Linked DNA regions of Homo sapiens. The protein of the gene in region 1 purifies or fractionates together with the protein of each later gene. This does not show direct contact. Each region holds a gene or a part of one and is shown on either strand. Other genes may lie near its edges. The genes, in order: SETD5 and TBL1XR1.

Region 1 (10,302 bases):
CTGAGTAAGACCCTCCCCCAATAGGAAGAGCAAAGGTGAATTATTATAATTTATACCTTTAGAGAACATGTATTACAGGTAAGTAAATACTCTCTTCACCAGAGAGCAATTCTCATAGATTTTCCCTCTTAGAAACCTAGGAAACAATCCACAAAAATTTTACCAAAAAAAAAAAAAAAAAAAAAAAAATCTTACATCATACAAATGTCATTGTGGCTGGCCAAATGAAAGCAAAACTGAAACTGTAAACCTGTAAACACTTGGAAGGAAGAGTGAACAAGGATATAAAAAAGAGCTCTCAATGGTAATTTGAATCACGTAAACATTTTAGGATACAACCAGGTCTCTGAAAAGCAAACACAAAAACAAAATAAAAAATCCGAAGAATGAACTATCTTAGATACAGAATAATGATGTAAAGATGAATTGTCAGAACCATACATATAGCCTTAAAGCTTAGAAGAGAACTTAGAAGTCATCTTGTCCAAAGCACTCATTTTATAAATGGAAAAATTAGGCTCAGGAGTGAAAAATCTTTTGTTATGGCCACCTTTAAGTTTTTCTTTTCAAAGCAGAAAACACTCATTTGGGGTCACTAAGCTTTCCTATCTGAGTAATTTTTTAATATTTCCAGGGTCTAGTAGATGTACTTGTAAAATAATTTACATTCTGGATCTGATGACTACAAAAAGGGAACATAAAATCAGAACAGGAGTATTCTAGAAGAAAGATGCTACCATGGTTAGCTATGAGGTGAAACACAGCAAATACAATCAAACCTACTCCTCCAGGTTCTGTTGTATAATTTTACAATATTTCAGGACTCATATAAAAAAGGAACATGGACATTTGTTTGTATCTAACAAGATACAATTAACCTCATGGATAATAAGTTAATTTTAGATGCACCTACTCAGCAAGTTGTTAAAATCAAAAGAACATTTCTCCCTTCTCTGAACCTCTATTAAAATATATTGCAAAGGAGTTTTCTGGGAGGCTCAAAGATGGATAAATATTTTAAAGGTCTCGCTATTATGGCGAAAGAGCAAGGAAGCAATACAGGTTTTGGAGTCCAGAAGCCCTGGCTTGACACTTGGCTGTGAGGCTGGGCTCAGTAGCTCGTATCTGTAATCCCAGCAGAATGTGAGGCCAAGGTGGGCAGACTCCTTGCACTCAGGAGTTTGAGATCAGCCTAGGAAACACAGCAAAACCCTGTCGCTACAAAAAATATGAATATTAGCCAGGCGTGGTGGTGTGCCTGTGGTCCCAGCTACACGAGAGGTTGAGGTAGGAGGACCATTTGAGCCCAGGAGGTCAAGGCTGCAGTGAGCCTGTGATGATGCCACTGCACTCCAGCCTGGACAACAGTGAGACCCTGTGAACCCCTACTATCCCCCACCAGAAGAAATCTGGCTGTGTCACTTATTAGCTGCTTCACTTTGGACAAGTTACCAAACATTTCTGAGACAAAGCTTCTGGATATATAAATTTAGGACAATGATCCCAATTTCATGCATGGTAAGTGAGATAATGTATGTGAAGAAAGCTTATAGTACAGTACTGAACACTGAGCAGATTTTCACCGAGTCCCGGTTCAACTAAATTTCAATGCTATGTTTGGAGATTTACAGATAATGCTCCAGTGTATAAAATGAAATATTAATTATCAATGCAAAGCACACTGTTTCATTATCAGTCAGACTGGTTTTTCTAAGAAGTCTGGAGACCAAATGCCCTATACACATTGTGTTTAGAAGAGGAGTTTAGAGAGAACAAGGTGAAACACTACTGAGAGCCTTGTTGGCCACTTATAAATGTTTTTAAAATACCAACTGAGGAACTAAAAAATGCAAAATGCTTCTTAAAAACTATGATTCAATTTAGAAACTCTAGGGATATCATAAAATGTTCTGTCAAATACCTGAACTCCTCTTCTTTTCAGAAGTTGCAGAATAATAATGATAAAAATAAAAATAAATAGCATAAGAATCTGAGTACAACTATACAGATACAACTTTAATTTGTCCTATACTGGTAAGTTTTTAACTTACAAGGCCAGGCCCTTACCTCTTTAGTGAGATATGAAACAGTGAGCCTATTAGAAATATACATTGTTCTAAATAATCCCATGGAGGGTTTTCTTATCTATCTGATTAACTTATACTCTGAGGGATTTTCAGAATTTTATTACAATTTTGTTGAATAATGAAAATGTTCTTAGGTTCTGCATTAGGTAAGTCCTTTCTAACCAATATTAGGAGATATTAGAAGAAGACCAATATTAGAAGAAGAACTCTTCTTCACTGCTATAAAGCCAAATTCTATTCTAGCTAAAACATTCCATTTCATTTTATTTTGCCTCATAAAAAGCTGTATTTTAAAAAATAGAATCTTGATATGTGAACAGCACACAATAAAGCAATGACTTAAACAGTTTTTAAAGATCCTATTTAAATAGTCTTGTTATGATAATCCTGTGTATGCAGCCTAAACTCTTCCTAAAGACTAACCATGACACATAGATAAAAGTGCTTGAGTAGAGCCTGTATAAATGAGATTAAGGATAGTCAGATACACTTGGAGAATATAACAGGGACTTGTGTTAAATGGAATTTCTATCTGTTGCCCGTAGAAATTTAAGGATGTGCTATAGATACAAGTATAAAAGCAGAACCAAGTTAAAAAAGCTTAAAGAAATGCATTTTCTACCAGATCTGAAGTTACAGTCCTAGACACGTTTTTGGTTTTCGTTAAGTCTCTGCTAGTTGGAAAAGATGGAAACAGAAAGACTGCAACCCAGCATTAGAATTATCAAGAAGGAATTTCAATTCAAGAGCCTAGTTCATATTATTTGCAGCTCAGACTTCATTACTTATCTGTAATAAATAATTGCCTACACTCCTTAAAGGACCAAAATAGGAGATTGTACGACCTGGCTTGATAAGATGCTTCAACAGTTAACATCCTTAGAAATGGTCAAATTTCTCTTTAGGAATTCTACGAGCGTTTCCCCGAACAAACCAATGAGTGATTCCAATGTTTAGGTAAGATGTGCAATTAGGAAAAGACTTTCTGCAATGTGCTGCTCATTCAGCAGTAGTGTCCTTCCTTTTTGCAGATTCCTATTGCCCTCCTCCCCTCCATATCCCACACCACTTTGGCTCATCTTTCATGCCCCCCTCCCCCGGAGAAATAACTTCTGTTCTTTGGGGAAAGAGAAAAGCTTTTAAGTTTGGAGGAGTCAGGGAAGACCTGCCTGGAGTTGGAGACTTCATCACATCAAATAATCTACATGCAGCATCCTCATGTACGTGATGCCAGTGGAGGAGGGCAATGGCAGACACTGAGGAAGGCAGCCTGAATCCAGATCTGAGGATAAGAGAAAAGGGTGTTCCAGGGAACAGACTCTACCTCAAAGGAAGACCAAATGAAAGGGTGTCCTATACTTCTAGAAACATGGAAAACGACATCATAGATCTGAGGGAGTGATCTATTCCTAAGAGACACCTTTGGAAAATATGCAGGGCTTCTGGGAATTAAGAAAGAGCATTCCAAAAACACCACCAAACGCTACTGCCACTAGATCCAAAAACAGTAAGTAACTGGAAAGAGGAGAAAGAGGCAGAAACAGAGAGGGAAAGAGAGTCTTTTAGGGTAGATTCTGTATTCTCTTGGAATAAACAGTCCGACTTGTCATTTGATCAAGGAACAGGAATTATGCCAATTACAATAGGATTTTTCCTCTAATTTCCTTCAAGTGATGATAGTGGATAATAACGGTTGAATTGATTCAAAACAATTTAATTTTTTTCATTTATGCAACAGTGTTCTAGAGGACCCAGGGCCTAATCTCACACAATAATCATAAATGGACATGTTAACCCATATCACAAGAGCACACACAAAACATATCCGTCTCTACCCAGTCATCCACTGCTGTGTGCTCTCACTCAGGAACCTCAAGGGTTCTCAGAAGAGACATCAGTGACCAGTCACAAATCTGAGCACTAAAAATGCAGTACATTCATTCCACCACAGTCTCACAGACTCTTGATGAATCAGTATTTATGGCTGAACAACTAACTCATTATAAACTCACATGGGCAGAGTGGCTATCTAGAGAACATTTTATTTATGTCATGATGATAGGAATCTTAGGCTTAAAAAAATAAAGCACACACACATAAACACAACACACACACAAAAACACAGACATACCTTCTTACAGGAGCTGAATGTGCCATCAGGCAGAAGGGGCCTTCGACGTCTCTCAGGGATAAAGGGTGAGCCAAAGCGAATGTAGTGTTTGGGGGTGGTGCAAATTAACGGGGAATGGATAAGACCTGGTAACATGTTTAGGGTCGTTGCCAGTACAGTTGGATCCGTTGTGATACGTAAAGGGCACTCAACAGGGCACTCTTGCTTCTCTGCTTTGTCATTCAACCATTCTGTAACTAGATACTAAGGTAAAAAAGAGATCATTAGTTTATAAATCAAGAGGTAGCAGTGTAGTTCATAAAGACAAACGTCATCTAGAAACTAGGACAGGAGGAGATGCAGCAGCTGCAGTAAGAATGAATTGAGCAACTAGAACACAAGGATATCTTCCTTCACCCTCTCCACGCCCACTAAGAGAGGAATAATTTCAGCTATCAGTGATTTAAGCTGACTAAAAATAAGGAAACAGGTAGCAGGATGACTCCAGCCTTTTGTGTCAAAGCATTTTAGAACTTTCAATCTAGTAATATTGAGATTAGTTTCTTCTAGGGATTATAGGTCCTCTCATTTCACTAAGACAGCCCTTGCCAGACTGGACTTATAAAGGATGCATTTGTGACTTACCTTTTTGGTTTTGGGGTATTTAGATGCAGCACGGTTGACATGGGATCCAGTAATTGACACCACAGTTGGGTCAGACCCTGTTAATGGCCTGTTTTCTCCTGAACTGTCTAGACTTCCAGCTTCAGTAGGAGTTACTAAACTGTTACTTCCTCCCTCTTCCAAGGCAGCTTGTGACAATTCTGCCTGCTGTGCATTGGCCTGCTTCTGACGCTTTAGTCTTTGGGCTGAACTGGTCCTGTACCGAGAAATTCGACTCTTCGGCCGGGGCCTAGAAGGCTTTGCTGGAGGTGGCTTGGGGACTAGTTTTTCTGCAGCAATATCCTGTAGCAATAGTAGGGTCAGATGCTTACCAGAAATGTTTTATCAGCAAACAGTCTAATTTCCTATTCACTTTAAGCATTCAGAATGTCTACTGATGAAAAATATAAGGATTAGAAACACTAATTTAAAATCTAATTTTTAAATACAAAAATGTATACACTTAAATGAGCTAAAGAGGCTAGCGACAAATGTTTGCGTTATTTCTAATAAGCATTTATAAAATAGGCCAATGAAATGGTTCCAGTTAAACAGTTAATGGCCTTATTTATTGTGATATGGAGCAAAGCTGAAAACACTGATTTTAAAAATTCCAAAAGTTAGGTATTGACATTAGCAAAGGTGAGGATGTCTAAGTGCTGAAGTCTTTTCAACTCTTACCCCTGCTTGGGAAGACCTCCGGGTATTCACACCAACACTCTGTGGGGTGCTTGGGATGGTAACATTTGAAACAGAGTTGCTAACTTCAGATTCAGGGGCTTCAGTTTTTGTCTCTTCACCAACAGGAGTCTCTGAGGTGGTTGTAGTAATCTCTACATCAGAGTTGCTCTGTTCCAAGGGCTGATCCCGCCGCTTCTTTCTTTTCTCTAAGTTTTCAAAAGCATGCATGATGGCTTCTACCTTTCTATCTTCCCTGGTCTAGAAAGAGATAGTACTGGTGTAGAAGGAAGCTTCAAATGAGGACGAGTGGATAGCTTTTATAAAAGTATTTTTAATGGAAATTTACAGAAATTCATTTAACTACCAGTAAGATGACACATATAACTTGGAAAACAGAAGATTAAAAATAAAATATTTCATTTTAAATGTGGGGAATAGTTGTAAATAAAGGCAAGGTCAAACATAAACTTTTCAAAAAGGGTCAGTTATTTTGAAACTTTAATATGAAAGAAAAACAGGATGGGTGCAGTGGCTCACGCCTGTAATCCCAGTACTTTGGGAGGCTGAGGTGGGAAGATCATGAGGTCGGGAGATTGAGACCGTCGTGGCCAACATGGTGAAACTCCGTCTCTACTAAAATACAAAAAATTACCCAGGCATGGTGGCGCATGCTTGTAATGCCAGCTACTTGGGAGGCTAAGGAAGGGGAATTGCTTGAACCCGGGAGGCAGAGATTGTGGTGAGTTGAGATTGCGCCACTGCACTCCAGCCTGGTGACAGAGCAAGAGTCGGTCTCAAAAAGAAAAAAAAAAAAGTCATCAAATCAGGGTCATAAACACACAGGATTGGTTTCAGCATAAAAGTAGAAAATTTTAGTTCATATGACTAAAAGGGTTTAAAAAAACTTCAGAACTCACAAAAACCTAGAAAATTCCTAATTCAGAGCAAACCAACTATAATACATTTTGATTCTGACCAGCCAGTTTTTCGGAAACCAGATTTTTTTTTTTTTTTTTTTTTTGAGATGGAGTCTCGCTCTTTTGCCCAGGCCGGAGTGCAGTGGCGCTATCTCCACTCACTGCAAGCTCTGCCTCCCAGGTTCATGCCATTCTCCTGCCTTAGCCTCCCGAGTAGCTGGGACTACAGGCACCCGCCACCGCGCCCGGCTAATTTTTTGTATTTTTAGTAGAGACAAGGTTTCACCGTGTTAGCGAGGATGGTCTCGATCTCCTGACCTCGTGATCCGCCCACCTCGCCCTCCCAAAGTGCTGGGATTACAGGCGTGAGCCACCGCGCCCAGCGGAAACCAGATTGTTAGTAAAAAAAAAAAAAAAAAAAAAAACAACCTCTTCAAACCATCACTAGATAATAATCACTACAAAACTACTGTGTGTATAGAGAAAAATAAATAAAAAAATTATAATAAAATCTTTATTACGGAAAAAGCCCAAATTATAACCTTCAGGTCAAATCAATGAGATGATACAAAGTCAAGAGAACAGAAGAGGTTCACATGATGGAGGTAGCAGGAATGAGAAGGAGCAAAGTAATGTCAGACAGTACTCACCCTCCTGCTATGAGCTAGGTTCTCCTGGTCATCTATAACCTCTTCTTTCTCTTCTTCTGGTTTTTCTTCTGGATTGTCTACTTCCTTTAAGATAGAGGCAATATTCAGCTGTACTCAAGCTCTGAGAAAAAATCAATCTGTTTTATTCTGGTAGCTTAAAACTCTCTATAACAATCTCTAGTGCTTTAAACTGTTAACTCATGTGAGGCCACATGGTAAACACAGATGATAACTAACCCCTATTCTCTGGTGCAAAACCAGCAAAGGATGTTTTTGACTTTGTAAAACAGAAAGAAATGTATGAACACAATAAACCCACATTGATATAAAGGGCACTAAGTGTTACTATAGCTCCCCTACTTAAACCATGCGGCAACCCGGGTTCCTCTTCCTTTGGAGGATTGATGCCATAGCATCATCATTTGACCAGGGGCGATTACCTCATGATCACTGGATACAGTTACTTTTTCTGGAACTTCTTGTGATTGCTGGTCATTATTCTCCTCTGAAGCCTCATTCTGCTGCTCCATCTCTAGCTCTTTCCGTCGTGCTTTTCTACGTCTAGTCTCTGCTCCAATGGTGGGTAGGCTTGGAGGAGGTGGTAGGAGTGGCAGTTCTGTAGCATTAGGATTCCTTTTTTGTATAGGACAATTCCGGTTTCCCTTGTGACAGGCACAGTCCACTTTATAATTACTGCTCCAAAGAAACAACCAAAATGCCTGTCTCAGTACCCTTGAAATTCAGTTACATTATCCATTCACCCTCTTAAAATATCAGTACAGTAACTTCCTCTGATATTGTCTCTGAATAAGTTAAACAGAGACATTAGAGAGTCCTATAAATACTTTTGTTTTTCTTTTTATTGGAGACGGAATCTCGCTCTGTCATCTAGGCTGGAGTGCAGTGGTGCATCACAGCTCTCGGTAATCTCTGTTTCCTGGGCTCAAGTGATCCTCCTACCTCAGCCTCCTGAGTAGCTGGGACTACACGCCCAGCTAATTTTTTTATTTTCGGCAGAGACGGGGTTTTGCCATGTTGTCTAGGCTGGTCTTGAACTCCTGGGCTCAAGTGATCCTCCAGCCTTAGCCTCCCAAAGTGCTGGGATTACAGGCGTCAGTCACCGCGCCTGACGTAACACTTTCAATATTCTGTCTTTCTTTGTGTAACCCCAATTCTACTCCATGGTCAGTGGGAAAAAAAAAAGAAAGCCCTCCCTAAATTCAATCCCCCCAGTGGTTTATTGGCTATTTAGCAGGCAGTTTATCAATGATAAAGTCTGATGTGGCCATACTCATCTTGTGCCCACGATTACCATGTCCTCACTTTTACCTACTAATTCCCTACTTCTTAAAACCTTTTATAACCTTCTTAAAACCTTTTTTATTTTCCTTGATGAATTAAGCAGAACATCTTTTTTCCTTATACCTGGGCCAAACATCACTTTACCACATAACCTCTATTTTGCCCCAAATGACCAAAGAACAAAAAGCATATACTTTAAAAAATCCCACATATTCATCTATGAATTGCCCTTTATGGTTTTCTGCACTGTCATATACAGCTAGATAACATGGTTTCTGTGGACAGGGTGGATCTTTAAATCTCACCCCTAGCTTTATAAGGGTATAATTGACAAATTAAAAGTAGAGGTAACATATTAAATTCTCTCTCTTTTTTTTTAAGACAGAGTCTCCCTCTGTTGCCAGGCTGGAGTGCAGTGGCGTGATCTTGGCTTACTGCAGCCTCAGCCTCTCAGGTTCGAGTGATTCTCCTGCCTCAGCCTCTCAAGTGGCTGGGACTACAGGCGTGTGCCGCCACGCCCAGCTAATTTTTGTGTTTTTAGTAGAGACAGGGTTTCATCATTGGCCAGGATGGTCTCGATCTCCTGACCTCGTGATCCGCCCGCCTCAGCCTTCCAAAGTGTTGAGATTACAGGCCTGTGAGCCACTGCGCCTGGCCTAAATTCTCATTCTATATGGTCCCTGACATAAGTACTCTGTGCATAACAACAGGATGCTATTGTAATTTCCAGGAGTGTCTCATACATACATATATATCCATTTTGCTATTCTTGCTAAAAAGGCATAAGCGAAAACACTTCTGTCAGGAAATTTGTGAGCAGTATCATACAAGGTATCCGTATCTCTAAAAAAAATCTTGCCTGTCTTTTCCTTTACAATTTCTAGGCAGAAAATTCATTAGTCATGAAAAGATTAAGTAAACAAAGGAAAAGGCAAGAAACAAGAGCAGACTTTAAATAGAGTGAATAGCTTAATATGTAAGACATGGATATTCCTGTTAGGAAAGGTTTCTGAGGTCTTACCAGTTACTATACTCATAATCAAATGCTATGGTGACCTCAGCATCCTTGGTGATGGCAGACACAGCATAGATGCACAGGTGAATCATCCCATCTGCAATCATGTGTCGCACCTGTGTGAAAAGGCTTCTGGTTGGATTTTTCATAAAGACCATGAACTTTCCGTAAGAGAGAAAAAAACCATACTTTCTCTCCATTTGGAGTTATGGTAATCTATTATTTATTTAAGGAGTTATGGTAATCTGTTATTTAACCCCTTCATTTCATCTGAAACTATTATACTGCACTGGCTTGAAAATTTATAATACTTTCTTAAATATGTGGAGAAACCTTGAGATGTTAGAAATCAGGGTAAAATCTCTACTTTCACATCTTTTTTTTGAGATACAGTCTTGCTCTGTCGCTCAGGCTGGAGTGGAGTGGCGTGATCTCGGCTCACGGCAACCTCTGCCTCCCGGGTTCAAGCAATTCTCCTGTCTCAGCCTCCTGAGTACCTGGGAATACAGGCACACGCCACAATGCCTGGCTAAGTTTTCTATTTTTTTTTAGTAGAGACGGGGTTTCACCATGTTGGCCAGGCTGGTCTCGAACTCCTGACCTTGTTATCTGCCCACCTCAGCCTTCCGAAGTGCTGGGATTACAGGCATGAGCCACTGCGCCCAGCCGCTTTCACATCTTATAGCTGTTTCCAGCTCCACCAGAGAATTAAAATTCCTTAGCCAGTAAGTAAAGCTCTGTGGATTTTCTTGCTTTATTTGATGTGGTTGCTCTGAGTAATGAATTCTAGAAATGTCTAGATCCTCTCATAAAACATTACTCACTAAAATCTAAAAAAACTGCAACCAAATAGCTTAGTTAGGCCTAACAACATCTA
Region 2 (13,084 bases), about 170 Mb from region 1:
TACAGCACTTAATAAACTACCTTCCGTTGTAGTTACATATCACAAGAACAGAGCCTTTTTCTTGCTCACTACCATATATCCAGTGGCAGACACACTTCTTAGAAAACATTACTCAACAAATATTTGCTGAATTAAAAAAAAGAGTACTCAGGATTTTGAAAGGCAAAATGGGTGAAAATAGTCTTAAAATTTAAAAAGCCCTACAAAAAAATCCAAATGTCTGCTAATTTAGCAAACAGACCAGGAATCTGGCTTCCAGCAATATTAATATATGCTATTAAAAGTCTGGTAGTTCCATGAAGTTTATAATTGGATTTAGCCTGTACATTGTGCTCTACAGTAGAAAAATTTTCATCCATGTTTAACAAAATCTTCATCACATCATTAGTATTTAGTCATTAAATGCTAAAGAGCATAGGCTTAAAAATTTAGTTGTTTTCTGCTAACCCATAACCCAGATTGTTACTTACAGGTCTAGATTACTCTCTTTCCTGTACTACACTGAGTAAATATACAAAGCACTCTTCAATCTCCCTTCTACAAATTCTTAAATGGCTCCTTTTGAAATCATACCTTGTTAGTGCCAGAAAGTGGCTTGGAGGCAAAGTTTTTTTTTTTTTTTTTTTTTTTTTTTTGAGACAGTCTCGCTCTATCACCCAGGCTGGAGTGCAATGGTGCGATCTCGGCTCACTGCAACCTCCACCTCCCGAGTTCAAGCGATTCTCCTGACTCAGCCTCCTAAGAAGCTGGGATTACAGGCGTGCGCCACCATGCCGGGCTAATTTTTGTATTTTTAGTAGAGACGGGGTTTCACCATGTTGGTCAGGCTGGTCTCAAACTCTTGACCTTGTGATCCACCCGCCTCGGCTTCCCAAATTGCTGGGATTACAGGCGTGAGCCACCATGCCCGTCCAAGGGAGGCGAGTTTTAAAGAATCCTTGAAGTGTGTATTAAACGAGTGTACATCAGAATTGACTGTTCTATTTGTCCTGTAGATATGAATATTTTATTGCTCCATTGTAATAGTAAACGGTGAAAAAGTAAATTTACATTATAGGGGGCTAAATCTTGGTGTACAATAAAATCTTACCATTAGGAATAAAAATGTTTGGTAATATACAGTGTGCTTTATATAACCAGGCACCATTCTCTAAGGGCTTCAGATATATTAACTTTGTAATCTTCACAACCCATCAATGAGAAAAGTAACTATCATTATCCCCATTTTACAGACAAGGAAACCAAGACAGCAACTCCTTAGGCCAAGCAGCTGGTCTGGATTCATCCCAGGTAGTCAGTCAGGCAGAATTCATGCTCTTTAAACCATACAGTATATTCTACATCTACAGTATAGGGAAGTACTTGAATGTACTTAAGTGGATGGGACAATGGTCCCTGATGGTTTCTGTGAAAAAGTGAGTTTCTGAATTCAATGATTATGATCTCTTTTGTATTTTTTTTAAAGTAGGTATTGAAAATGCTTAGAAGGACATATGTCAAGTTGTTAACAGTGGATACCACTAAGGACTTGGTTGGGAGTTTGAAAATGAACATTTATTATTTATACCTTGTATTTAAATTTCTTTAACCAGCATGTGCTCTACAATAAATATACCACATGCTAGTGACAACCACCTCCCACATTATGACACAAAACCAAACAAGCATATGAAAAGCAGCACACATACCTTGTGCTACCATATTGGTCAATGGGTAGGACAAGGCATAAAAGATTCCAACGCACATTCCAAGTTAACCAACACTGTTTAAGAAGTAGAATGAACTTACCGCTAATTGACTCTTATCAGACTTCATTTACTTCAACACCAGATCTGTCCAACTTCAGTTTATTCCCACACACTAAAATATTTCAACCATTTCAGGTGGAAATATTAAAATCCATATTACATAGCTAATTTTTATGTCATATTAAACTTAACTTGAATTATTTGATGACTCTAGGCCATCCCAAATGGCAGCTCTTCATTCTGCTAGGAGTTTTAGCTATTCCTCCCTCTCTATGGGGAGCACTGTTCCTCATGGACCCAGGTTGGAAAATCAGATAATTGATCTGGTCCAGCAAGTGTACGTAAATTAAACCAATAAAAGCTTAGGGAAAAGGTCTTGTCTTGGCAGTGTGTAGATTCTTCAAAATCCCCTATATTGAATGTGAGAGATCCTGGAAGCTGATCCTGTTTTTAAATGTCTGATTTCAGACTGTGAAGTTCAATGTGACTAGATTTTTTAATGCAAGTCTATTTGAGGTGCTCAGGCAGTGCTTGTTTTCTCCACAGGAGCCCGGCCCAGTGGCAATCCAACCTATGCTTTACGGCTTTCTGACAGCACAACATCTCTTAAGGCAGCTCGTTCTGACATTAGATTAGTATGTCAGAAAGTTTGTTTTTTTTTTTTTTAAATAAGACTGTGATATCTTTTTCGGTATAGATTCCACCCCATTGGTCTTAGTTCTTAAAATATAAATTGTCTGCCCAATGGATCATACAAACCCAACAACCAAGAAACATTAGTAATTGTCTTCTGTACTTTACTAAACACTTTGTGTTTAATATATTTTAAATTGTAAAGAAATTACAAGGAACTCCTAAAAAAATTTAATACAAAAATATTACAAGTTAGGACAATTAAGCATTAAGATGACATTTAAGAAGCATGCAGAAAAAGTAGCATAGGGTTAACATTTCATTGATGACAAAGCACTTTGGTACAGCAGAGAAAAGCACCATAAAACTACCATCTAAAGTGTCTTTTCCTCCACTGTATTTTTTCAAATGAATATATTGGTAAAACAGTAAACTTTGATCTGATCTGCTACGGATTATACTAGGTAATAAATCTAATCCATTGTAAAGTGTTAACTATGAAATTAAAAATAATCCCTTCTATTACTGTTCAAATTAGTTTCAGCTTTCCCTCAAGCTTATAAGGATTCTAATCCTTAGGAGTCCAACCCTTTTTGGAAAAGTATACAATGCAGGATATTACTAATAATCTATGCCATGCAATAAAAGTTAACCCCTTGAAAATGAAAGCATGTCAGTTCTAGCAACTGCAGTGGCTTATTTCTAATAAAACATAAAACTATGCTTGAATTTATTTCTGTTTAAGGAAATAAACAGGAAAAATAGAAGACCTAGAGAGTGTAAATTCTTAAAAAAAAAAAAAAGAAAATATGCTCAATGATTCTTTTTAAAAAGTCTCTAACTCTAAAGGAGTTGGTATTAATTAAAACTAGAAGGTGTCTAGTTGTTTTTCTTATAAAGTTTGTAGTAACAACTAGCTAAGAGAGAAAATGATTCAACTATAATTGGCTTGTTGTGAAGCAAAAAAAGGTCACCGAGAAGTTGAGCCTCCTGCCCTAATCTTCAACACATCTACACATTGTTTTGTGCTCAACCGTGTGGCTAACCAAACAAATGTTATCTAAGGTCTCTTTTTCAGCTTCTGTGAAATAACGTCTTTTAAATACAATATTTATTTTTCAAAAGAATTAAAAATTACAATCCCTTAGCTGATTAGATGCTCTATTATACTTTAATAAAAATAGTAAATAACCCCTTCATTTAAAAAAATCTTATCTCCTGCAAGAAGTAATAAAAATAGTAAAATTTGTAATTTTATTATGGGCTTAAAGTATATATCTTGGGAAACAATACGTTTATGAAAAACAGTGGTTTGGGTTCTGATGGCAGTTATTAATCAGTAACACCAGTATGGGAGAGAATGAATGTGTTATAGGTTATGAAGGCTAACTTGGAAAAAAAGGTTTATTCTACAATAGAACACTGGAGAAGTAAAAGCAATTAAAATGTAAACAAACTGTAAACAAGAAATACCATCCCTCTCTCTTTACCTGACTAGTAAATAGTCTATATAAACTACATAGACATCAAAGGTTTTATATATGTACACAGCCAACATAATATCAAAATATATTTTATTCTGGACCTCTTTCAGATCTGATTCAAATTACAGTTGTCAAAGCAATACAATGCAAAGGGGAACTGCAACAACAACAACAACAAGAAATGTGCCTAGAAAGGATAAAAGGGTCACTGGGGACAAATCATTGTGATGTGGAACTAAAATACGTCGTAAGTGTAATTAACATGGTCCAGGACAGCACAGAACATCTACATCAGTCTTCCTTACACAATAATCATGAAAACTGAACAATGAAGTTCTTTAACATGTACAAAAACCTGTCATGGGCTGGTTTACACTTTTACAACAGTTTTAAAGTTAACTGGATAACTAAAGAAATGATGCAGACATTTTAATCCAGTGCTATAGGTAGGCTCACAGAATTAGACCCAAAGGATTTGTAAAAACAAAAATGGAAACAGTATAGCTACAATGTCAAAGTCAGGAAAGAAGAAAATTTACTTCCGTATTCAAGGATTACAGAGCTACAAATGCAGTCTGTGTGTTTTTGTTTGTAATGAGATGGATAAGTACATCAGACTAGATACAACATGCAGAATGTTTTCCTGAACTTATCCGGAAATTCCAAAGAAAACATCATGAAACAGCTTACAAAAAAAAAAAAAATATATGCCCTAGTTATTCACCCTGCTTCAACACTGTCAACGTAAAGGCAGAAATAAAGCAAGCTATCAATACCTCAGAACTACTGATATAAGACATCAAATTTCTAAATCAGTGTATTAAAAAAGTGAACACTTCCTCTTTCTTCTCTCTTCTACATTTAACTAGAATCATGTTTAAAAAAAACTGATATTAAATGTGACACTTCAGAGCTACTACTGGAAGGAGTAATTCATAACTTCCCTACCCTCCTTCCATCCCTGCTGATTCAGGAGAAGGGGGAAAAAACAAAGAAAACAAAACGAAAAACCAACCAGGGTCTCTTGTAGATTTGCTGCTATTCCACAAAATGTTGGCATTTGCTGCCATGCCACAATGTTGGTCCACTGAAATAGGATTTCTGCGGAAACTGTCAACAGTAGTAATTCACCATATGCAAGTACCATCCTTATCATGCGAGAATAATCACAGGTTCTGTAGAAATGTACAATGTACTTAAGATAATGAAAATTGTAGCGCTGCATTTGAGATTTATTTCTCTACTTAGCTAGTAAAACTTGTCATTTTTGCTCACTTAAGTATGATCATTTGTGATTCCTTTAAATAGCAAAAATGCACAGTCCTCTTTAGGCCTCTACTCAATAATAGTTTACATTACTCTTAACAAAATCATTCTACATAAACAGATAGCTCCTTAAAAATAGTACTCTCTCATTAAATCTAATTTGACAGAAAGAAGTTTAAGGGAAAAAGGAGTGCTTTGTAAGTGAAAAAGTACAAATCTTTGGCCTTTCTCTTGACATTTTCGTATGTCAAAAAGCAAAAAACCTTCATGTATTTCAATCTAGTGATTACTTTTTGCACCATAATTTGTTTTTTACACCACAAAAGGAGGCACTTTCAGTATCTGTAAAAGGTATTTAATCCTAAAACATACTTACCTAGAGAATAATTAAAACAGAATTCAATACAATCTAGTATCTATTAGGAAATTAAGAGTTATCACTTCTAAAAGTCATTTGAAAGTCAATGATGTTATCTGGTCAATGGCAGGAAATGGGAACTGGAACAAATATAAGAACTTATGGGATTTCCTACACGGAGACAAAAAAAGATATTCCTTTATGTTGTTTAAAAGTGGCAGCTGCTCTTTCTTTATTCCATTTTAATCAATGAGTATTGATTCAAGTTTTCCTTTCTATTTTTCCTTATGATAAGTTTCTTACAGTAGCTTATACAACAACAAATAGCATAGAAAAACTACTGGATTCAATTGATCATCAGGAATAAGTTCTCAGAAAAACACAGGCGGAAAAATAAGCAAGAATCCCAAATACAGAACTTTACAAGCTGTGAAACTTGGTCTCTTGCAATCATGTTACTGCTCAAATTAGAGACAATCTTATTGCTGTCTATTGGAGCAGCATCGTGGCACATCAGCAGGCAATGATGATGTTGAGAACAGCAGCAAAAATAAACAATCGTATGCTCATGAAGAACCCAAGCCTACAAAATGGATACCTTTCAGAAAAGTATATACTTAAAAGACCCAAGACGTCAGGATAATAAAGCTCTGTATTTATAATCTTTTATATGTCCTATTGTGGCTATTATGCTTAAGTAAAATAGCTAAAGAAAAAAAAGAAAAAAAAAACAGAAAAGATGACAATATCATAAAAATGTAGCTGTCTATTTTGGCAGCTATATTGCAGAATTTCTTGACTATCTTTTAATCAGCTGGGAAAAAGTCAATAACTGTATGCAAATGAATAAACTGTCCATATCAAAATACAAAAGTACTATCAATAATCACCTCTGACTTTCAGATTTAAATTCAGTGCAATTGACAAATGCATCACTAAAGGAAAATGCAGCTTAAAAGATACTCAAAACATTTGTGTCTATTCCTGGGAGCACATTTTAAAATTATTGCACAGATTTTTTTAATTTTTATTTATTTTTTTTAAACAATAACAGAGGTCAACCACAGATGTGGACCTCCAGCAATAAAAGCAGGAATTCAAGTGCCAGATACTCAGCATATTAGGTTTCCTACGTAAGTCACAGGGTAATATGTTCTAAATATCTCTAATGTGATCCAAAACCCTAAAAAGAGCTGGCACAAAACCATCGTGAATGACTGCCTCTCTTGATGTAAATTTTTAAAAATATTATTACAGTATCATAGTCCCCACTAACAACAACTGGGGTACATATAACAATGTATTGTGAAATTAAGTGTATTTATTCTCTTTACCAATAGCAAATGCTACCCTACCTTAGTAAAACCAAGACTTGCTTCAATCAATGCTGTTTTGTAAAAATAGCAAAGCAACGAATGCTGAAATCAATCAAAGCTGCATTACTTGGGTTAAATCAGTTTCTACTTAGAACACAGGTTAAAATTTTAGTACTAAAAGGCCTCAAAATAATTAGTGACAGAAATAGTGTTATTAATTTGCTAAGCTCAACAATAAGCAATTCCTTAATTAAAATCTTCGAGATATAAATTTGATGACTATTCTCTTCAGAAATGACATACCTGGATTATGTTAATCATGACAAGCCTTATTAGTCACACATATAAACATGGCCTCATGCAATCATTTGTCTGTATATGTTACTCTAAGTTGCATGAGCACAAGGTTTAATATCTATATCTTTAAGAAAATACTTGATATTATAAACAGAGTAAAAGACATGATATAGTAGTGATTACTAAAAAAAAAAAAATTAGCAGCTTAAATCTATCTATATTTGAAAAAACGTAGTCACAAGTACCACAAATGCAGAATCAGAGCAGCAGGAAGAAGGTTAGTGCAATTATACTTTCATTAAAAAAAATTCTGAATCACTGCTATTTAAAAACACCTTGAAGCAAGTCTTTTGTTTGAGATTGTTTTTTAAACTAAGGTAGCAAACATTTTGCCATGTAATGGCAGTGTTATATGCCGTTATCTTGCTTTGTATAAAGAAAACAACATGAGAGATTTTTAATACTGGAGTTTGGTTACATTACATATTTAAGCTTCTACACAGAATGATGGACACTTCGAGAAGCTAATCCTTATCCAGAAACATTTTAATCTCTTAAAAAACAAAGCAAAACAAACAAACAACAAAAAACCCAAAACTACGTTGCTCCTTTTCACAATAGTGCACATTTTTACCATAATTTAGTTATGGCTACAAAACATCAGAAGATTTTTTTTAATGTATCTTCTCTATGGTAATTAAAAAAAAAGTTGTGCCCTTCTAGTCTTTAATTGGCAGAAATATGTCCCAAAAAAGAAACTATTGCATTTAAGCCACATCACCAAAAAACAAAAAAGAAAAAAAAAAAAAAAAAGCAAAACAAAAAAACAAAACCAACAGAGCATAATACCCTTTTACTGATGTGTCTTACAGATTGACATGACCAAAGTCATAGGTTTTCATTTAATTTCCAATTCCCCCTTCCACAACATGCACCAACTGAATATATGCTCTGGGAGCCATAAAATGTACCAAACATCTACCTCTTCAAAAGAATGCATTAAAATATTTTAAAGAATTTTTTGTTTAAAAGGTGAAAAAAATATAAACAAGAAACTGATTCACTCCCTTACTTCATGCATCCATAATCTAAACCAAAAACGAAATTTTAAAGCAAGAACAAACTACTGCTGCAAGTTTTTGTAAGTCCATTTTCTCTGTACATACAAACTGCTCACTACTGAAGGGAAAAAAAGAATATAATCCATGGTGTCTGCTGATTCAAAGGGGAGAAACAAGGCTGTCATTTAGTATCCAAAAACTGGTACATGTATGTTCTGCTTTTATAATGTATATTTTTCTCTCTTCTGTTTTTCATATCCAAAACTTCTAAATGCTATTTTAGGGGCACAGCAGATTAGATTCCAGCACTTGGTGAACAGAATTCACAAGCTGTGACAAAACTCTGTCATCTTCAGGGTGCAATTTTGTTTATATACACTGTATGTATATATTTCTTTTAGATTTGGCTGTAGTGGACTGGCCATGGTTCAAGTGGGACTATAGCAGTACATGGGTCAGGGACAGTCATTTTGGCTATGTACACATTCATAGTCGGTCCATGGCTTCCAACTAGTAGCGCTATTTCCGAAGGTCTAATACACAAACCTGTAAGAAATTAAAATAATCAACCAGTGTATTCAGAATTTTATTGTACATTTTATGTTTAACTTTTCTATAGTACAATTTGAAATGTTTCTTAGTTCCAAGTTTATAAAATTGGTAAAGCATAATAATCATGGAAATGAGCACTTAACTGACAGAAATCAGACAGATCATTTAAGCAGATCAAGAGAACAACCATGAGCTCAAACTGTGGGGGAAGAACCACGGCTAGGATTTTTATACTCTCTGTTGATTAAAAAGGAGGGGGAAAATGCTCAAAACAGACCATTTCCTATCTATTGGACCCTAATGAAAGATATCACAGATTATATTCAGCTACAGCATCAGTAAATAGCTACCCTTTTCCCACCTTCTGGTGCTTCTACAGCTTTGGAAGCCATATTTGCATTGTTGTAAAGAGTTGGCTAACCTCATCCTGAAAATCTTTCAGTATCACACATTCCTCAACACAGGAACCAACTGCCTCTAGTTCTGCCTTCCCTGGGCCAAAAAAATTCTTCTGTGAAGAGGAGAAGGTAGAAATACACATTAAACATTTCAATCCTTCTCAGAATGTTCCTCTGGTATACCTAATTTCATAAATGAAGGTTCATATTAAAAATAACTGTCCATTTCTAGATTATAAGGTATTTGGTAAGGACAGCCTAAATTTTGTTTACATTATTTGAATCCAACGCACATGAAAAGTTTACAGCCTCAGGAAAAAAAAAAATCAGTATCATACCTTAAAATTTATTTTGAAAAAAACACTTTGGTATCACTAACAATAAGCTGCATTCTGATGTGAATACCCACCCACACCCTCTTTGGAAACACTTTACTATACTTACTGAACCATCTGATGCACTGGCTCCAACTTTGTCTCCTGCTGCATTCCAGCAAACTTCAAATATTCCACCTGTTCCCCTATAGCTGTGAACTAGAGCACCTGTCTAAAAGAATGAAAAACAAAATCTTAAAAATCGTAATACATATTATAATAAATCCAAATGCTGAAATAAAAATATTACATAGCTTTATTTCTAGCAATCAGAGGAGGGACTTAGCTTCAACTATAAAAATAAGTTCTGAAATTCTAGAAATGTAATATGATCCCTTTACAAAAAGATAATACCAGCCTGTTCTCAAAAGATTACTCACACACATATTCAGTTTCTCCAGTCTTGATAACCATTCTTGGCTAAGGTATCTGGTCTCTCTGACATAGCCAACAATAGCTAGAAGTAAACAGTCAGTCTATCACATGAAATAAGTTTTTGTTGTTGCTAAATGATACATGAGTCTAGCTAACATGTAGAGAAACAAAATAAATTCAGAATTTCTTTGACAAAACATCTTAAAGAGGAAGTATAACAAACTAGTAAAGATAATTCCAGTATAAATCTGTTATTCACTCTATATTTACTGACCAGTTCCTAAGCTAGGGGATTATAAAAGAAGCTAAAATAATGTATGTATGTTCCTTTTTTTTCTTTAGACAGGGTCTTGTTGTTACCCAGGATGGATGCAGCTGTGCAATCATAGCTCACTGCACCTTCTAACTCCTGGGCTAGAGTGATCCTCCCGCCTCCACCTCCTAAGTAGCTAGGATTACAAGTGCATGCCACCATGCCCAGCTGATTTTTAAAAAATTATTTGTAGAGACAAGGTCTCACCGTGTTGCCCAGGCTGGTCTTGAACTCCTGGCCTCAAGCAATCCACCCACCCTGGCCTCCCAAAATGTTGGGATTATAAGCATGCACCACAGTGCCCAGACAGATATGTACACTATTCTTGAAAGACGTTATATGTTTAAACAAAAAACACAGGCAGGAATACTAATAATGTAATCATTCATTAAGCTGAATCATAAATGTAACAACGTTATTTTATTATTCAGCTGCTACTGAAGAATTAAAACTCAATCCAAAAATATATTCTCCTATGAAACCAGTCAATATAACAGGACAAAGATCAGAGGTCCTGTTATGAAAACTGAAATATATGCTTCAGGTGTTCGGCCCTGACAAATCAGAAAAGTGACCTCTGCAGCTTTATGGTAACCTAAAGTCAAGCTAGAGGTGGCAGATCTACTTAAAAGCACATGGCAACAAACCATGCACCTTGAAAATACCTCCCATTCAGCCTATCCAAGATGACAAGCTGGAAGAATGTTTGACCGAGCTTTCCTCTTCAAATTTAGCCCAGTAATGTGGCACAAATCACAGATGCATTGGTACTGACACATTGCTACTGATTATCAGGCTGGGAAGGCTCAACTGTTTTGTTTACTTAAAATTTCTCATAATTTATGAGATTAAGTTCAAGTATAGTAGGCTTTGAGTATCTATAGTTAATGAGGAGAGAAAAAAGTAGAACCAACAAAATCTAGTTTGCTGAGATATAAAAAATAAAATCTACAGTCAACCTACAGACATTCAATCTACAGCCAACTTGGGGGTTAAAAAAACAAAACAACTTTCTTTTAAAAAGCACTTACCAATCTCTAAGCTTGAACTGGGCTATAACGAACCAAAACATTATGGGCAACAAGGCAGAGCTAAGACATTTAAAAAGGCCAATGGCTCAGATCATCGGCATCTACCTCAAATTTGTATGTATGCTGGCACAAGACTTCTACAATTTACTCATCAAATGCTTAGGCAACTCATCATACAAGAAAGGGGAAAACAAAAAACCTGGATGTATATACAACAATAGGATAATGATTTTCTCCTGCACTGAAAATTCACTGTTTTACTATTTTCAAAGTTTGAAAAAGTAAGACTTTTGGTACACAATAGTGAAAACAAAATAATATGAACAGTTGGTCAAATGCCCTTCAATGTCTTGTAGTATCTTCCATTAGCACTCTACAGTTCTATGCCCAAATTTCATTAAAATTGATTTTGTCACAATGGACTAAATGAGTTCACTGAAAATGTTCTAAATGTGAGCAACAACTAGTATATAAAAGGAATGTATTTTTTAAAAGAGGTCATTCATAGTAACATAAAAACCATAAGGCACCTCAAAACACATTAGGAAAAAAGATCCTTAGAGAAACTATAAAACTTTACCAAAGGAATAAAAGACAAATAAATGGAGGTATAACGTATTTATGGGTGATAAAACTCAATAACGATTTTCCCTAATTTCACCTATAAATTCAAGGCACTCATAAACAAAATCCAAAATTGTGTGCTCTGTTTTGGAAATATGGATGACTAAAGTGGCAAGAACAGAAAAACAGTTTTGAAGAATAACAACAAGAGGGATTTATAAAGTTAGAATTATTAAAACTATGCTATTGATTCAGATAAGGCAAATACGTAAATGGAATAAAAGAGAAGGTAATAAACAAACTGCATATACATGAACTAGGTATATGAAACCGGCATTATGAAAACAGAAAGGGGACAATGAATGGTGCTAAGACAACTGACTACCCAAATGGAAATATCTATACCTCACACCATATATAAAAATCAGTTCCAAAGGGGCTAAAAAAATAAATGTAAAGGAATAAAACTTAGATACTTCATGAAAAAATATCAGACCTCAGTGATATCTATAAGGAAAAATGTATTAAGCTATGAAAAAAAAAAAAAGCTATCAAAAAGGAAAGATCTAGCCGGGCACAGTGGCATGTGCCTGTAGACCCAGCTACACAGAATGCTGAGGTCAAAGGATCTCTTGAGCTGAGGAGTCCAGCCTGGGTAACACAGCAAGACCCTATCTCTAAAAATAATCAACTAATTTTAAAAAGAAAGATAAATACATCTAAACATTAACATTAAAAACTTTCATATGATCTGGGCGTGATGCCTCATGCCTGTAATCCCAGGAATACTTTGGAAGGCTGAGGCAAGTGGATCCCTTGAGCCTAGGGGGTTGAGGCCAGACTGGGCAACATGGCAAAACCCGGTCTCTACAGAAAAATACAAAAATTAGTGGGGTGTGGTGGCATGCAGCTGTGATCCCAGCTACTTGGAAGGCTGAGGTGGGAGGATTAGCTAAGCCCAGGAAGGCCAAGGCTGCAGTAAGCCTTGATCTGCCACTGCATTCCAGCCTAGGCGACATAGTGAGACTCTATCTCAAGACAAAACAAAACAACAACCAAAAAACCCCACAAAACTTCTACGTGATAAACACTCCACATGAAGAAAATAAAAAAGAAGGTACTGGGAGATCACTGGAATCCATATAACCAGGAAGGATTAGTACCCAGAATGCATAATGAACACTAATCAGTACAGAATATAAAACAATTGAAAAATTGTGGTGGTGGTGGTGAACTAAAATGCTAAAGTCCAACTGTATAATAACTATTTGAAAAGATATTTAAACTAATTGACAATCAAGAAAATGCAAATAC

Evidence for each region.
Region 2: the proteins of SETD5 (region 1) and TBL1XR1 purify together in Homo sapiens (affinity purification with mass spectrometry; 2 studies listed by BioGRID). This does not show direct contact.

Annotation. Positions count from the first base shown.
Region 1 is NC_000003.12:9,442,547-9,452,848, reverse strand, and holds part of SETD5 (histone-lysine N-methyltransferase SETD5), read right to left. Parts: intron 9,542-10,302; coding exon 9,432-9,541; intron 7,802-9,431; coding exon 7,549-7,801; intron 7,193-7,548; coding exon 7,109-7,192; intron 5,800-7,108; coding exon 5,542-5,799; intron 5,164-5,541; coding exon 4,843-5,163; intron 4,462-4,842; coding exon 4,219-4,461; intron 3,370-4,218; coding exon of another isoform or gene 3,304-3,369; exon of another isoform or gene 3,257-3,303; intron 1-3,256.
Region 2 is NC_000003.12:177,016,816-177,029,899, forward strand, and holds the end of TBL1XR1 (F-box-like/WD repeat-containing protein TBL1XR1), read right to left. Parts: intron 9,660-13,084; coding exon 9,558-9,659; intron 8,710-9,557; coding exon 8,683-8,709; 3' UTR 2,529-8,682; downstream 1-2,528. UniProt on the Homo sapiens protein: F-box-like protein involved in the recruitment of the ubiquitin/19S proteasome complex to nuclear receptor-regulated transcription units. Plays an essential role in transcription activation mediated by nuclear receptors.